Linked DNA regions of Homo sapiens: region 1 is linked to region 2. Evidence: fine-mapped expression QTL. A gene starts in region 2. The other region holds a variant in brackets. All regions are shown on one strand. Distances are from middle to middle.

Region 1 (8,328 bases), 46 kb after region 2:
GAAATTGCACCATGGCGAAAGCCATTTGAAGTTAGATGAGAAACAACAGCTAAACTCTTGGAATATCTTTAGGAAACGCAGACGTGATGAGGAGGTCTTTCAACCTCAGTTTTCTAACACATCCGAAAGCCTTTGCACCACCTGGGAAGCCTCCTCTCAGGGAACAATAAGACATAGTCGTAACTCATAGGAATTTCTTCTGTCTCCAGAGCCTGAATCCTCTGAATTATTTTTTAAACTTAAACTTGCACGTACAAAGTTTTTGTGGTGACAAAAAGAATTTTCTTTCTTTCTTTTCTTTCTTCTCTTTTTCTTTCTCTCCCTCTCTCTCTCTTTTTTTTTTTTTTGAGACAGAGTCTTGCTCCGTCGCCTAAGCTGGAGTACAGTGGCACAATCTCAGCTCACTGCAACCTCTGTCCCCCGGGTTCAGGTGATTCTCCTGCCTCAGTAGCTGGTATTATAGGTGTGCACCATCATGCCCGCCTAATTTTTGTATTTTTAGTAGAGATAGGGGTTTCATCATGTTGGTCAGGCTGGTCTCGAACTTCTGACCTCGTAATCCACCCGCCTCGGCCTCCCAAAGTGCTAGGATTACAGGCGTGAGCCACCGCGCCCGGCCTCTTTCCTTTCTCTCCCTTCCTTCCTTCCTTCCTTCCTTCCTTCCTTCCTTCCTTCCTTCCTTCCCTCCCTCCTTCCTTCCTTCCTTCCCTCCTTCCTCTCTTTCTTTCTTTTCTTTCTTTCTTTCTCTCTCTTCCTTTCTCTCTTTCTCTCTCTTTCTTCTTTTTTTTTTTTGAGACAGAGTCTCACTCTGTCGCCCAGGCTGGAGTGCAATGGCGCAATCTCAGCTCACTGCAACCTCCGCCTCCCAGATTCAAGCGATTTTCCTGTCTCACCCTCCCAAGGAGCTGGGATTACAGGCGCCCACCACCACACTTGGCTAATTTTTATAGTTTTAGTAGAGACGGGGTTTCACCATGTTGGTCTTGAACTCCTGACCTCAGGTGATCCACCCGCCTTGGCCTCCTAAAGTTCTGGGATTACAGGCGTAAGCCACCACGTCCGGCCAACACAAAGACTTTCATGTTATTTCTGGAATAAGAAAAACAGCTACGGAAAAAATATATCAACAGCATACTGTATACAGCATTTTTTTTTAAATGGAGATTAATGAATCGTGAAAATAATATGTAAGGCTGGACACAATGGCTCATGCCTGTAATCCCATCACTTTGGGAGGCCGAGGAGGGAGGATCATTTGAGCCCAGGAGTTTGAAACTAGCCTGGACAACATAGTGAGATCCTGTCTCTGCAAAAACTTTAAAAATTACCTGGGCATGGTGGCATGCACCTGTAGTGCTAGCTACTCAGGAGGATGAGAAAGGAGGATTGCTTGAGCCCAGGAGTCTGGGGTTGCACAGAGCTATGATCCTGCCACTGCATTCTGCCCAGGTGACAGAGTAAGACCCTGTCTCTAAATTTAAAAAAAGAAAAAAATAAAGACAAGAAAATAACACGTAAATGGTGAGCTAAACCAGATTTCTTGAATCAACAGTGCTTGTCAGTGATTTTCGCTTCCCCATTCTATGTGCTTTTGTTCTTTTTTGTACAAAGAGATTGTTCTCTGATGTCATTTATGTAATTAAAAATAAATGAATTAAAAACCAAATCGAGAACATTTTCTATTTTTAAAATCAGAAGAAATAACATTTTTACATTTCTAATTAAAACTGTAAGTACGCCGGGTGCAGTGGCTCACGCCTGTAATCCCAGCACTTTGAGAGGACAAGGTGGGTGGATCACTTGAGGTCAAGAGTTCAAGACCAGCCTGGCCAACATGGTGAAATCCCACCTTTACTAAAAACACAAAAATTAGCCAGGCGTGGTGTTGGGCGCCTGTAATCCCAGCTACTCAGGAGGCTGAGGCAGGAGAATTGCTTGAACCCACGAGGCGGAGGCTGCAGTGAGCCGAGATCACGCCACTATACTCTGGGCGACAGAGGGAGACTCCATTTAAAAACAAACAAACAAAGAAACAAAACAAACAAAAAACCTCTAAGCGCATATTTCTAATACAAACCCTAATCTAGACTACAAGTGAACTGTAATCAAAACAGTGGAGTATGAGACAGCAAATCTACTTGTAAGCACTATATGAATGATACTTTTACTTTCTTGAGACAGAGTCTCACTCTGTCGCCCAGGCTGGAGTGCAGTGGCTCAATCTCGGCTCACTGCAAGCTCCACATCCCGGGTTCACGCCATTCTCCTGCCTCAGCCTCCTGAGTAGCTGGGACTACAGGAGCCTGCCACCACGCCTGGCTAATTTTTTGTATTTTTAGTAGAGACGGGGTTTCACCATGTTAGCCAGGATGGTCTCGATCTCCTGACCTCGTGATCCTCCTGCCTCGGCCTCCCAAAGTGCTGGGATTACAGGCGTGAGCCACCGTGCCGGGCCTACAAATGATACTTCTAAGAGAAAACATAGGAGAAAATATTTTTGATCTAGTTAAGGGACCATTTTCTTAGTTATGACACCAAAAAGCATGATCCATAAAAGAAAACATTATAAATTGGAATTCACCAAAATTAAAAACTTTAACTCTTGGCCGGGCACGGTGGCTCACGCCTGTAATCCCAGCACTTTGGGAGGTCGAGGCGGGCAGATCACGAGGTCAGGAGATCGAGACCATCCTGGCTAACATGGTGAAACCCTGTCTCTACTAAAAATACAAAAAAATTAGCCGCACTTGGTGGCATGAGCCCGTATTCCCAGCTACTCAGGAGGCTGAGGCAGGAGAATCGCTTGAACCCGGGAGGCTGAGGTTACAGCGAGCCGAGATCGCGCCACCGCACTTCAGCTTGGGCGACAGAGCGAGACTCCGTCTCAAACAAAAACAAAAACAAAAACTTTAGCTCTTTAAAAAACACTGTTATGAATATAAAAAGACAAGCCACAGACTGGGAGAAAATATTTGCAAAACATATATCTGACAAAGGACTTGGACCTAGAATATATTAAAATAACTCATATAACTAAGTAATAATAATTCAGACAACCTCATTTTTAAATGGAGATGATTGGCTGGGTGCGGTGGCTCATACCTGTAATCCCAGCATTTTGGGAGGCTGAGGCTGGTGGAACACTTGAGGTCAGGAGCTCGAGACCAGCCTGGCCAGCAGGGTGAAACCCCGTCTCTGCTAAAAATACAAAAAATTAGCAGGGTGTGGTGGTGCGTGCCTGTAGTCCCAGCTATTTGGGAGGCTGAGGCAGGAGAATCACTTGAACCTGGGAGGCGGAGGTTTCAGTGAGCTAAGATCACACCACTGCACTCCAGCCTGTTGACAGAGTGAGACTCTGTCTCAAAAAACAAAATAAAACAACAACAAAAAAACGAGATGATGTGAACGGACACCATACCAAGGAAGGTATATAGATGATAAGTTAGCAAATAAAATATGCTCAATGTCATTGGTCATTAGAGAAATGCAAATTTAAACCACAATGACTTACCTGGCAGGGGAGATGCCATGATCACATAGGTGGTTTTCCCAGGGTGAGGTGCATCCATTGCACTCCAGGTGTGCTAACCCTTGCAATTTCCCTCAACGTGGGAAACTCAACTGCGTTGTTTGTGGCAGTGGGGGACTGCATTTGCGCTTTCTCCTGTGTCAACTTTCTTTTTTTTCTTTTCTTTACTTTTCTATTTTTTTTTTGAGATGGAGACTTGTCCTGTCGCCCAGGGTGGAATGCAGTGATGCGATCTCGGCTCACTGCAACCTCCACCTCCCAGGTTCAAGCGATTCTCCTGCCTCAGTCTCCTGAGTAGCTGGGATTACAGGTGCGCACCACCACACCTGGCTAATTTTTTGTATCTTTAGTAGAGACAGGGTTTCACCACATTGGCCAGGCTGATCTCGAACTCCTGACCTCGTGATCCACCTGCCTCAGCCTCCCAAAGTGCCAGGATTACAGGCGGGAGCCACCATGCCTGGCTTACTGTGTCAAATTTCTTTTTTTAAATAATGCAATGAACTACCACTTACTC[G/A]CCTATTAGAATGACTGAAATTAAAAAGACTGACTATACTGAGTGTTGGCTATGAAGGAGAAACTAGAGCTCTTATACTCTGTTGATGAGAATGTAAAGTGGTACATTTTGGAAAAACAATTTGGCAGTTTCTGAAAAAATTAAGCACATACTACCACATGACTCAGCGTTTCACTTCTAGGTATAGTTCCAAAGAAATTAAAGCATAGGTCCAAACAAGGACTTGTACAAAAATATTCATAGTAGTTTTATTTGTGATGGCACAAAACTGGAAACAACCCAATGTCCATAAATAGGTTAAGGGATAAACAAATCACAGGAATACTTTTCACAATTTAAAAGCAATGATGCCGGGCACAGTGGCTCATGCCTGTAATGCTAGCACTTTGGGAGGCCCAGGCGGGCAGATCATTTGAGCCCAGGAGTTGGAGACCAGCCTGGGCAATATGGCAAAACCCCATCTCTACTAAAAATACAAAAATTAGCTGGGCATGGTGGTGGGTGCCGGTAATCTCAGCTACTCAGGAGGCTGAGGCATAAGAATCGCTTCAGCCCAGGAGGCAGAGGTTGCAGTGAGCTGAGATTGTGCCGCTGCACTCCACCCTGGGTGATAGAGTGAAACTGTCTAAAACATAAATAAATAAAAGTAATGAACTATTGATACATACACAGCATGGGTGGATCACGAAATACTAATGCTGAAAGAAGCAGATTCCCCCCTCAAAAAAAATAGTATGCATTGTATAATCCAATTCATATAAAATACTAGAAAATGCAAAATAATCTATAGTGACAAAAGGCAGGTGAGTGGTTGCTTAGAGATAGGGCTGGGCAGGGGGTAGACGAAGGATTACAAACAGTCAAGAGGAGGCTGGGCATGGTGGTTCATGCCTGTGATTCCAGCAGTTTGGGAGGTAGAGGCAGGAGGCTTGCTTGAGGCCAGGAGTTTGAAACCACCCTAAGCAACATAGTGAGACCCCTCTCTACGAAAAGTAAAACAATTAGCTGGGTGTGGTGGTGCACGCCTGTGGTCTCAGCTATTTGGGAGGCTGTGGTTGGAGGATCACTTGAGCTTGAGAGTCTGAGGCTCAGTGAGCTTTAATCGCACCACTCCACTCCAGCCCGATAAAGGGAGCAAGACCCTGTCTCAAAAAAAAAAAAAAAAAAGTCAAGAGGAAACTTTTGAAGGTAATGGATATGTTCATTATCTTCATTGTGGTTACAGTTTCATGGGTATACACATACGTCAAAACTTATCAAATTGTACTATTTATTTATTTATTTATTTATTTATTTATTTATTTATTGAGACAGAGTCTGACTCTGTTGCCCAGGCTGGAGTACAGTGGCACGATCTCGGCTCACTGCAACCTCCGCCTCCCAGGTTCAAGTGATTCTCCTGCCTCAGCCTCCTGAGTAGATGGGTTCACAGGTGCACACCACCACGCTCGGCTAATTTTTGTATTTTTTTTTTTTTTTTAGTAGAGATGGGGGTTTCGCCATGTTGGCCAGGCTGGTCTTGAACTCCTGACCTCAGGTGATCTGCCCGCCTCGGCCTCCCAAAGTGCTAGGATTACAGGCGTGAGCCACCGCGCCTGGCCAAATTGTATACTTTAAATATGTGTAGCTTATTATTCACATGAATTAATACTATCAATAGGTAGGGACTGGGCATGAAGAAAACTGGTATCCCCTGGTAAGGTCATTATATACTTCAATTGGCATATAATTTGAAGGTGCATGATACTTGGAGTTATCTGATTCCTTTTAAAGTTGTCATTTGAATTCTTGAGGTTTCCAGACTTTCCCATCAATGCCCTAGATTTCACAGAAAAGACTTGGAAATAGTATGAATTTAACTTATTTGTTAATTATACCTTTGATTTGCAGCTGCAGCAGCCCTGTGGTTAGAGGGGTAAGAAATTCTCATACGGCAGGCATGCGAAGTACTTGGTGCTCTGTGTCTTGAGCCAAGCATTTAATGACCTGAGCTTTTCTTTCTTTTTTTTTGAGATGGAGTCTCACTCTGTTGCCAGGCTGGAGTGCAGTGGCGTGATCTTGGCTCACTGCAACCTCTGCCTCCCGGTTTCAAGCGATTCTCTTGCCTCAGCCTCCCGAGTAGCTGGGACTACAGGTGCGCCACCACACTCAGCTAATTTTTGTATTTTTAGTAGAGACGGGGTTTCGCCATGTTGGCCAGGCTGGTCTTGATCTCTTGATCTCTTGATCTTGTGATCTGCCCCCCTAGGCCTTCCAAAGTGCTGAGATTACAGGTGTGAGCCACCGTGCCTGGCCAGAGCTTTTCATTTTCTTTAAACTCTCCAGGGTAGTTAAAAGCATCAGCTGCTCCTCAAAATATATTTATTAATTGCAAAGAGAAACGTAGTTATTTTGCAGTGGAGGAACTCAGAGCAAACACTGCCTTAACCAAGCACTCAAGGTTAAAATCACCAGTTTAAAGACCAGGCATGGTGGTGGATGCCTGTGGTCCCTGCTATTTAGGAGGCTGAGGTGGGAGGATTGCCTGAGCCTGGGAGGTCGAGGCTGCAATGAGCCTAGATTGTGCCACTGTACTCCAGCCTGGGCAACAGAGTAAGACCCTATCTCAAAAAAAAAAAAAAAGTTTGTTAAGTCACTAAGTTTGTGGTAATTTGTTACAGCCAACCTTATGGTTTACAGTGTGGCCCAGACTGAGAAAAGATTCTCCAGCCAAACCAGGCTGCAGTCTAAGCAATCCTCTTCTTGTCTCTTATTACTCTGTGGAGCCAATGACACCAGATGGAGAAACTGTATGGAGCTCAGGGAAAGGCTGTATGGGAGAATTGGAGCACGTGCCCTGTGTTTTGTTGGTTTTATTTGGTTTTGGTGGGGTTTTATTGTTTTCTTTTTTTTTCTTTCTTCTTCTTTTTTTTTTGAGAGAGTCTCACTCTGTTGCCCAGGCTGGAGTGCAGTGGCATGATCTCAGCTCACTGCAACCTCCGCCTCCTGGGTTCAAGAGATTCTCCTGCCTCAAGCTCCCGAGTAGCTGAGATTACAGGTGCCTGCCACCACACCCAGCTAATTTTTGTATTTTAGTAGAGACAAGGTTTCACCATGTTGGTCAGACTGGTTTCGAACTCCTGACCTCAAATGATCTTCATGCCTCGGCCTCCCAAAGTGCTGGAATTACAGGTGTGAGCAACTGTGCCTGGCCTGTTTTTTTGTTTTTTGTTTTGTTTTTGTTTTTGAGACAAGATTTCACTCTGTCACCCAGGCTGGAGTGCAGTGGCACATCATAGTTCACTGTAGCCTCAACCTCCTGGGCTCCAGCAATCCTCCAGCCCAAACCTCCTGAGTGGCTGGGACTCCATGTACACGCTGCCACACCTGGTTAATTTTTAAATTTTTTGTGGAGATGAGTTCTCACTATGTTGCTCAGGCTGGTCTTGAACGCCTGGGCTCAAGCGATCCTCCCACCTTGTCCTTCCAAAGTGCTAGGATTCTAGGTGTGAATCACTGTGACTGGACTCCCTGTCTTTTTTTTTTTTTTTTTTTTTTTAGTTAAACTTTTTTTTTTTTGAGACAGAGTCTCACTCTGTTGCCCAGACTGGAGTTCAGTGGCACAATCTCAGCTTGCTGCAACCTCCGCCTCCTGGGTTCAAGCAATTCTCCTGCCTCAGCCTCCCAAGTAGCTGGGATTACAGGCGCCCACCACCACACCCGGCTAATTTTTGTATTTTAGTTCAGACGGGGTTTCGCCATGTTGATCAGGCTGGTTTTGAACTCCTGACCTCAAGTGATCCACCTGCCTCGGCCTCACAAACTGCTGGGATTACAGGCGTGAGCCACCACGCCTGGCCGTTAAACTTTTTATTTTGGGATAATTGTGGATGTACATGCAGTTCAAAGAAATAATACAGAGCGATCCTTTACCCAGTTTTCCCCATTGATAATATCTTGCAAAACTATAGTACAATATTGGCCGGGCACGGTGGCTCACACCTGTAATCCCAGAGCTTCGAGAGGCCGAGGCCGGGCGCTGTGGCTCATGCCTGTAATCCAGAGTTTGAGAGGCCGAGGCCGGGCGCAGTGGCTCACGCCTGTAATCCCAGCACTTTGAGAGGCCGAAGCCGGCCGCGGTGGCTCACGCCTGTAATCCCAGAGCTTTAAGAGGCCGAGGCGGGTGGATCATGAGGTCGGGAGATCGAGACCAGCCTGGCCAACATGGTGAAACCCCGTCTCCATTAAAAATACAAAATTTAGCCGGGCATGGTGGCGCGCGCCTGTAGTCCCAGTAGCTACT
Region 2 (8,328 bases):
GCCAAGTACTGCCAAGAGATCACCTAAGAAGAAGAAAACAGTCCTCTCAGCAGATAATCTCTCAACCTCCTGCAGGCTTCTATTTTATTGTGTTCTTCCAACTTCTCTGGACACTGCTTTGTAGTCCTTTAGAACAGTGCAGACACCACTCCCTCCAGGAAGCTTTGTTTATATCTATTTGCCTGTTCTCATATCTGTCCCCGCAATCAGTCTATGAGCCTCACTAGGGCAGGGGCTGCACATGTAACTTATTTACCTAGCACAGTGCTGGTTCACTTGATGACTGGAGGATTTGCAAATACAAATTTAACAAAAAAATTTTTTGTGAGACAGACATTAGTTTTTACTTTTCGGTAGTCCCAGGTCCCTGTAATGGTAGCAAGCTTTCCTTGACACCAGTTCAAGTTGTGTATAGTAAGCCTGGCCTAGGTGAGTGTTTAGTCATATTCCTCAACAATTTCACTAATGACCTGCACCTGACTTGAAAGGCTCGGTTCTCTAAACCAGCTTCATCTTCCCGTTATCAAGCCTCAGTTCCCAACATTTGCAATGCCTCTTCACTGTTAGTATATTCACTTTGTAAGATGCAGCTTAAGTCTATCTCTTCCAGAAGCCTTTCTTTCCTCCCCCTGGTTCTGATTATGAGTGAGTTAAGTCACAACCTTCCCACCTTACCCCGGGTGCAAAAAGCGGATAACCATTCCTGCTCTGAGTGTTGAGGAGCTCACAGGTGGTAAGGGATGGAAAAGCACACTGTAAAGCGCTGTACACAGGCAATTTATCTTTTCAGAATGGCAGCTCCTCCGGGGCAGGCCCCTAGGGAAGGCAGACCCTCCCCACTCTCGCAGAGGTCAATCCAGCTTCTCCGCAGCGCCCAGGGGGCCTCCCGCTCCCTTCTAGATGCGCCGGAGCGGGCCGGAATATCACTGGCTCGCCCGCAGCCCAGCACGCGTCAGGCCGGTTAAATCTCTGCTTCGGCCTCGGAGGAGGAGGTTGTGCCGGCCCTGCTCGACTAACCGGAGAGGGCGAACCAAAAGCCATGCATGACGATACGCACCGCGGGGACTGGAGCCTCTGGCCTCACGACGGAGATTCCCTGAGAGCTGCCCGTGGTTGCCGGTACCGGCTGCTGCCGCCGGACTCCCGTAGGCGCTGCGCGGCTCCCTTTTCTTCGGGAGGCAGAGCCTATCGGTGCTTCCGTGTGCGTCATCAGGAGGCGACCGTCGGGGATGCTCACAGTTGGACAGTTTGGTCCCGAGGCATGCTGGGATACCGCGGGCCGGTCTCCATAGTAACTGGCCGACATTCGCGCAGGCCTTCGGCCTGCAGGGAAGGCCCTGATGGTTCAGTGCTTTGCAGACGGTGCCCTTCGTCCGCGGCCATCTCCCCACGGCGTGCAAGGGGAGAAGCCGGCCCCGATCCCCCCACCCCCAGCTCAGGAGAGTAACGGAGCCAGCTGTGGGTGTGAACACGCATTTATTTACACATTGTCATCGGTAGGCACATACCCAGCCCAGCCCGTTGAAGGGACAGATCTCAGGCTGTCACCCATGGAACCTGCAGACCCTTCCCTCCTCCAGAACCCTTGAAGGCGAAGCCCTGAGAGAACCAGGAATTTTAGGCTTCTGTTCAAGAGCTAAGAACTAAATTTTATGCCTTCATCTGATTTCTTTCCAAAAAGTCCATTTCATTAAGTATTCAGACTTCTTAGCTCCATCCCATTCATACTTTTTGCTCTCCTACTACCCACCCAAGATTGTTAATAATAACAATAATAATAACAACAATAATACTGCGATAATATTAATACTTCACATTTGTACGAAGCTTACAGAATGTTTTCACATATAGCATCTCATCTGAGCCTCCCAACAGTTCCGTGAGGTAGGTATTCTCACCTCCCTTTTTACAGACAGGGTAACCGAGGCTCAGAGAGGTAACGGGATTTACTCAAGGCCACACAGCTAGTTAGTGGTAAAGCTAGGAATCGATCCCAGCACCCCATATCCAAGTCCAGTGTTTCAACACCACAGCTACCTCTGTAAAGTGGAGCGACATTTCTTACCCCAGTCAGGCCTAAATGGTGGCCTGAGGAGCCAAGAGGCTGACTTCTCAGATTAGGGGAGGGAAGGGCTCAGCAGCGTCGGGGAGAGTTGGGGTACTTGGCCTTCAACTCCTGTTTGAACTGGCGATATAGGATCTTATTGTGCTGATTTTCAGCCTCCTTTTGGGGATGGAACTTCAACGCTTCTTTGAAGCCCTTATGAACCAAGAAACCTTCGTTCAGGACCTCAAAATCAAACCCCGCCACATGCAGCTCGCAGGCCTGCAGGAGGAAAGACAGGTTAGCAAAGTTTGATGACATTGACAGGCCTGAGACTGACTTCCCTAAAGCCACAGTCCAGCGTCCTCACCCCTCTGGAAGTATCCTGGATCTTCCACACCATCCACCCACCTCCTGAACTATGATCCCTCCTGCTTCATTGCCTCCTTTCCATCCAGGGCCACTCCTCATAACTCCCTGATCCCACCACCCCTCCTGCCCCATTACCCCTGCCCTCTCCCTTATGAGCACCTGGCTGATTCGGTTGAAGCCGTACTGCCGAAAGCGCTCGTCGAAGGTGGGCACCTTGCCTCCTGCCACGTAGAATGGCTCCCAGGGGTCCTGCCAAGGTACCACGTAGGCGGGCCGCAGCAAGCTCTCTTCCGGCAGGTTGACCCAGCGGGAATAGTTGGTGGGTGCCTGGCAGGGGGTGCACAACCCATAATAGAAGGGCCGCACCTCGCCAACCTGGTAGAGCTGCACCAGCTCGTTTTTGTTCATGGGCATGCGGCGGGCTCTTCGGATTTCGAAGGCAGGCACCACCAGCGCGGTGCCTCCCCACTGGTTGCTCTGATCCAGCATTTCCCGCAGGCCTCTCCACAGCCCCTCGCTGGGCACCATGTCCACATCGATCACCAGGGCATAGTTGGCCCCCTCACGAGCCAGATTCCTCAGCAGGTTATTGGGGTAGGAGACATTGGTGCCCAGCGCATAATTAATCCCGGGCTGGGCCACCCTGGCTAGCTTGTCAAAGACCTCCTGGCAGGACCGCAGCAGGGCAAACTCCCCCGGCTCCCGGGGGTCGGGCACGGCTGCCTCGTAACGCGAGGGGCACACGAGGTGCATGGCGACCCTGGCGCGCATGTCGGGGCAGTGGCTGCTCAGCGCGTAGGCCAGCACCGTGGCCAGCTGCGCCTCCTCCTTGGTGGCCGCGAACACCGACACGGACAGCGGGCCCTCCCAGCGCTCCAGCAGACCCGACAGGTGCAGCAGGTTGTCCACGCTGGCGTGCGTGGCCAGGATCACATCGTTGGGGTCCATGGTGGTCTTCAGCAGGCCCCTGTAGACGCGGTAATCGCCGCTAGCGTCCAGGACGCCTCCAGAGGCCAGCGCGGTGCGGAGCTGCGCCTTGACCTGGTCCACGGACCGTGGGGACGGGGGAAAGAACTCAAAATATTGGTCTTGCTCCTCCTGCCCGTGCAGTCCGGACAGCAGCGACAGGTAGAGCAGCTGCAGCATCGCCACCAGCATGAGCGCGGCCAGCAGCAGCTGGTAGAAGGCGCACCGGATGGCGTAGGACATCTGCATGGCTCTCGGGGCTCGGGGCGCGCAGCAACGACCACCCGGCCACAGACTACGCCAGCGGCCGCAAGCCCGGATTTACCGCAGCCTGCCGAGCGCAGCCGAGGCGAGCCGAGGCCAGCCGAGCCCCGAGCGCCGCCCCGCCCGCCGCCCGCCGCCCGCCGCCCGCCGCCCGCCACCGCCCCCAGCCCCCGGCGCGCCGGCTCGCCCCCTACGAGGGAGGAGGAGCCACGGCCCCGCCGCTCGGCCGCGCGCCGTGCAGACGCCCGCCCGCCCGGGCCCCGCCGGCTTCCCGGGACGCACTCCTCTCCCTCCCCGCCGGCGCGCGCACCCTGGACCGGGCGCGCCCTGAACGCGCGGCGCGCTCGGCCGGACTCGGAGGGAAACCGCGGCAGAGCTCGGCTGCAGCGTGGTAAAGGATGGCGCGGGCTCAGCAGAAAGGAAATCAAAACGCTCCCTTCCTTCCGCGGCTTCTTCTTTCCCTGTGTCCGAAGAGGTCTGCGTTGCGACTTACGTGGTAGTGCTTGGAAGGTGCGGAGTAGATGAGAGATAAGTGAATGTGGACAAACCTGTCACGTAGGACGAGGTGGCCGAGTGGTTAAGGCGATGGACTGCTAATCCATTGTGCTTTGCACGCGTGGGTTCGAATCCCATCCTCGTCGGCCCTGTTTTATAGAGGTTGGGGGGGAAGCATCTACATTTTCACATCCTGCCTATTTGGAGCAGCAAGCTGGAGGTGCGAGGGGTGAGGCATCTAAATTTTCACATCCTGCCTGTGGAGCAGCAAGCTGAAGAAAACTGAACTGGGGGTGAGAGTGGAATTCGATCCCAAGTCTCTCTGGTCTTTATCCACCACGCATCTCCTGCCTGCTCCTACTTCAGGTGTCTGTAGCTCTGGGCAGAGGCCAAAGGTGTTTTCTTTCCTTCTAGAAAGAGGGCCCAGGGGTTGGTGGCACGGAAAAGACTAGAACCGGGATTCTGGCCAGTGTGAAGTTGGGGGCCAACGTATGATCTGCAGGAATCAGGGAAGCCCCCCATTGGAGGCATCGCCCTCCCCGTCCGAAGTAGTGGTACTTGTCCTACTCTCCAGCACTTCTCCTAGGGCGGAGACCTTGTGTCCACATGCCCTGCTCCCCAACACACACAATCTCTTTTTTTTTTTTTTTTTTTTTTTTTGAGGCGGATTCTCGCTCTGTCGCCCAGGCTGGAGCGCAGTGGCGCGATCTCGGCTCACTGCAACCTCTGCCTTCCAGGTTCAAGCGATTCTCCTGCCTCAGCCCCGAGTAGCTGGGACTACTAGCGCATGCAGCACGCCCGGCTAATTTTTTGTATTTTTAGCAGAGACGGAGTTTCACCGTGTTAGCCAGGATGGTCTCGGATCTCCTGACCTCCTGATCCGCCCACCTCGGCCTCCCAAAGTGCTGGGATTACAGGTGTGAGCCACCGCGCCCGGCCGCACACAAACTCTTAAGCAGAAGGCTTTGAACATTCCAATATCAGGCCACTATACTCTTAATAAGTATTTGTGGATTAATTCATCTGTGGACTCTTTAGAACAGGAGAGGCCGTGGGAAGGGCAGACACTGCCACTGCTAAATCAATTACCGTATATTACTCAACTTTTTAGGCTGAGCCAGGGAGGCCCCTATAGGGCAGAGTGCTCTGAATCTTGGGATGTCAGGACAGACTGGGCAGGGCTTCAAATAAGGATAAAGTGTTTGTCCCACTATTCCACAGGCAGTAGGGTGCCAAGGTTGTTGAGTTGAAGAGTGATCAGAAAACCTTTATTTTGCAGCCCAGAGCAAAAACACACACTGAGTACCTGGTCTCTGCCAGGAACTGTGTTAGGCACGAGGGATGGGCCTTGGAGGAGACACAGGTATTGTCCTTGAGAGTTTCCACTGGTGACCTTGGCTGTAAAGAGGAGAAAAGTAAGTGCAGATCCTTTCAGCACAGGCCTTATAGACTGGAGGCTCAGAAGTCAGACATGCTGCCATGTGGATTTTCTTTGACCTCCTCAGTGTTTTATTTTTTATTTATTATTATTATTATTATTTGAGACAGAATTTTGTTCTTCTTGCTCAGGCTGGAGTGCAATGACGCGATCTTGGCTCACTGCAACCTTGCCTCCTAGGTTCAAGTGATTCTCCTGCCTCAGCCTCCTGAGTAGCTGGGATTACAGGAGTGCACCACCATGCCTGGCTAATTTTTTGTATTATTTTTTAGTAGAGATGGGGTTTCATCATGTTAGCCAGGCTGGTCTCGAACTCCTAACTTCAGGTGATCCACTCACCTTGGCCTCCCAAAGTGTTGGGATTACAGGTGTGAGCCACTGCGCCCAGCCCTATTATTATTATTATTATTTTGAGACAGAGTTTCGCTCTTGTTGCCCAGGCTGGAGTGCAATGGCTCAATCTCGGCTCACTGCAACCTCTGCCTCCTGGGTTCAAGTGATTCTCCTGCCTCAGCCTCCGGAGTAGCTGGGATTACAGGCATGTACCACCATGCCCAGCTAATTTTGTATTTTTAGTAGACTAGGGTTTCTCCATGTTAGTCAGGCTGGTCTCGAACTCCCGACCTCAGGTGATCTGCCCACCTCGGCCTCCCAAAGTGCTGGGATTACAGGAGTGAGCTACCAAGCTCAGCCAGTGTTTGTATTTTCAGTGGACAAGTTTTTTACTTCCTGGGTTAATTTTTTCCTAGGTATTTTATTCTTTTGTATCCTATTGTAAATGGAGTTGTTTTCTTAATTTCCTTTTCACGTTGTTCATTGTTAGTGTATAGAAATATAACTGAATTTTTGTTGTTGTTGTTGTTGTTTTGAGATGGAGTTTCGCCCTTTCACCCAGGCTCGAGTGAAGTGGCGCGATCTTGGCTGACTGCAACGTCTGCCCCCCGGGTTCAAGCAATTCTCCAGCTTCAACCTCCCGAGTAGCTGGGACTACAGGTGCATGCCACCACACCCGGCTAATTTTTGTATTTTTAGTAGAGACGGGGTTTTGCCATGTTGGCTAGGCTGGTTTCAAACTCCTGACCTCAGGTGATCCACCTGCCTCAGCGTCACAAAGTGGTAGGATTACAGGCATGAGCCACTGTGCCCAACCAGAATTTTGTGTGTTAACTTTTTTTTTTTTTTTTTGAGGCAGAGTCTCACTCTGTCTCCCAGGCTGGAGTGCAGTGGAGTGATCTCACCTCATTGCAACCTCCGCCTCTTAGGTTCAAGTGATTCTCCTGCCTCAGCCTCTCTAGTAGCTGGGACTACAGGCGTGCGCCACCACACCCAGTTAATTTTTATATTTTTAGTAGAGACAGGGTTTCACCATGTTGGCCAAGCTGGTCTTGAACTCTTGACCTCGAGTGATCCACCCACCTCAGCCTCCCAAAGTGCTTGGATTACGGGCACGAGCCACTGAGCCAGGCTATTGTGTGTTAATCTTGAATTCTGCAACTTTGCTGACTTTATTAGCTCTAAAAGTTTGTGTATGTGTGTACGTGTCTGTGTGTGTGTGTGTGTGTGTCTCTGTGTGTATGCATGTATTCCTTAGGATTTTCTATATATGTATATATTATGTCATCTGTGACTATGAATAGTTTTACCTCTTTTTCAGTTTGGTTAACTTTTGTTTCTTTTTCTTGCCATTTTTTTTCCCACCCCAGTGCAGAAGTTCATTTCTTGCCAAATTGCTCTAGCTAGAACTTCTAGTACAATGTTGAGGAGATGAAACGGTGAAACCACGTATCCTTCTCTTGTTCCTGATCTTTGGGGGAAGGCTTTAGGTCTTTCGCCATTAAGTATGATGTTATTTGTGGATTTTTCATAAATGCCCTTTATCAGGTGAAGGAAGTTTCCACCTATTCCTTGTTTATTCAGCATTTTTATCTTGAACGAGTGTTGGACTTTGTCACATGCTTTTTATCTTGAACGAGTGTTGGACTTTGTCACATGCTTTTTATCTTGAAAGCGTGTTGGATTTTGTCACTTGCTTTTTGTTCATAAATTGAGGTGATCACTTGGTGTTTCCTCTTCATTCTATTAATGTGGTGTATTACATTGATTGATTTTCTTTTTCTTTTTTTGAGACGTTCTTGCTCTGTTTCCCAGGCTGGAGTGCAGTGGAGCGATCTTGGCTCACGGCAACCTCTGCGTCCTGGGTTCAAGTTATTCTCATGCCTCAGCCTCCGGAGTAGCTGGGATTACAGGCATGCGCCATCATGCCTGGCTAATTTTTGTATTTTTTAGTAGAGATGCCGTTTCACCATGTTCGCCAGGCTGGTCTTGAAATCCTGACCTCAAGTGATCTGCCCGCCTCGGTCTCCCAAAGTGCTGATATTACAGGCATGAGCCACCACACCCAGCCTTTCTTTTTTTTTTTTTTTTTTGAGATGGAGTCTCGCTCTGTCACCCAGGTTGGAGTGAGTGGCGCGATCTTGGCTCATGGCAACCTCTACCTCCCAGGTTCAAGTGATTCTCCTGCCTCAGCTTCCTGACTAGCTGGGATTACAGGTGTGCACCACCACAGCCAGCTAATATTTTTTGTATTTTTAGTAGAGACGGATTTCACCATGTTGTCTAGGCTGGTCTCAAACTCCTGACCTCAAGTGATCCACCTGCTTCAGCCTCCCAAAGTGCTGGGATTACAGGGTGAGCCACCGTGCCCGGCCACACTGATTGATTTTTGTATGTTAAACAATCTTGCATTTCT

Which allele goes with the higher level. Alleles are on the strand shown, and positions count from the first base shown. SD is a standard deviation of normalised expression in the study named.
In carriers of allele G in region 1, the expression in visceral fat of the gene that starts at base 3,715 in region 2 tends to be higher than with A alone (small effect, 0.18 SD a copy in GTEx).

Evidence for each region. PIP is the estimated chance that this variant, and not a neighbour inherited with it, causes the effect.
Region 1: its variant is the best candidate, but not a certain one, in a credible set for the expression of B4GAT1 in visceral fat (GTEx, PIP 0.64).

The regions. Positions count from the first base shown.
Region 1 is chr11:66,389,946-66,398,273 of GRCh38, forward strand. It overlaps the pseudogene BRD9P1 and the pseudogene RNU1-84P. Among named protein-coding and RNA genes, the nearest start is that of SLC29A2, 22 kb to the left of the region's middle. The variant G/A (reference allele first, on the strand shown) is at 4,047.
Region 2 is chr11:66,343,915-66,352,242 of GRCh38, forward strand. It overlaps B4GAT1 (beta-1,4-glucuronyltransferase 1), which reads right to left and starts at 3,715. Exons shown (of 2, transcript NM_006876.3): 1 at 2,576-3,715; 2 at 1,460-2,326. The coding sequence starts at 3,631. The coding sequence ends at 2,135. It overlaps BRMS1 (BRMS1 transcriptional repressor and anoikis regulator), which reads right to left and starts at 1,190. Exons shown (of 10, transcript NM_015399.4): 1 at 1,058-1,190. B4GAT1-DT (B4GAT1 divergent transcript) reads left to right here and starts at 4,077. Exons shown (of 2, transcript NR_135761.1): 1 at 4,077-4,156. TRS-GCT3-1 (tRNA-Ser (anticodon GCT) 3-1) reads left to right here and starts at 4,206; the gene lies at 4,206-4,287. RefSeq lists enhancers at 930-1,480, 936-1,365, 4,375-4,875 and a silencer at 3,759-4,348.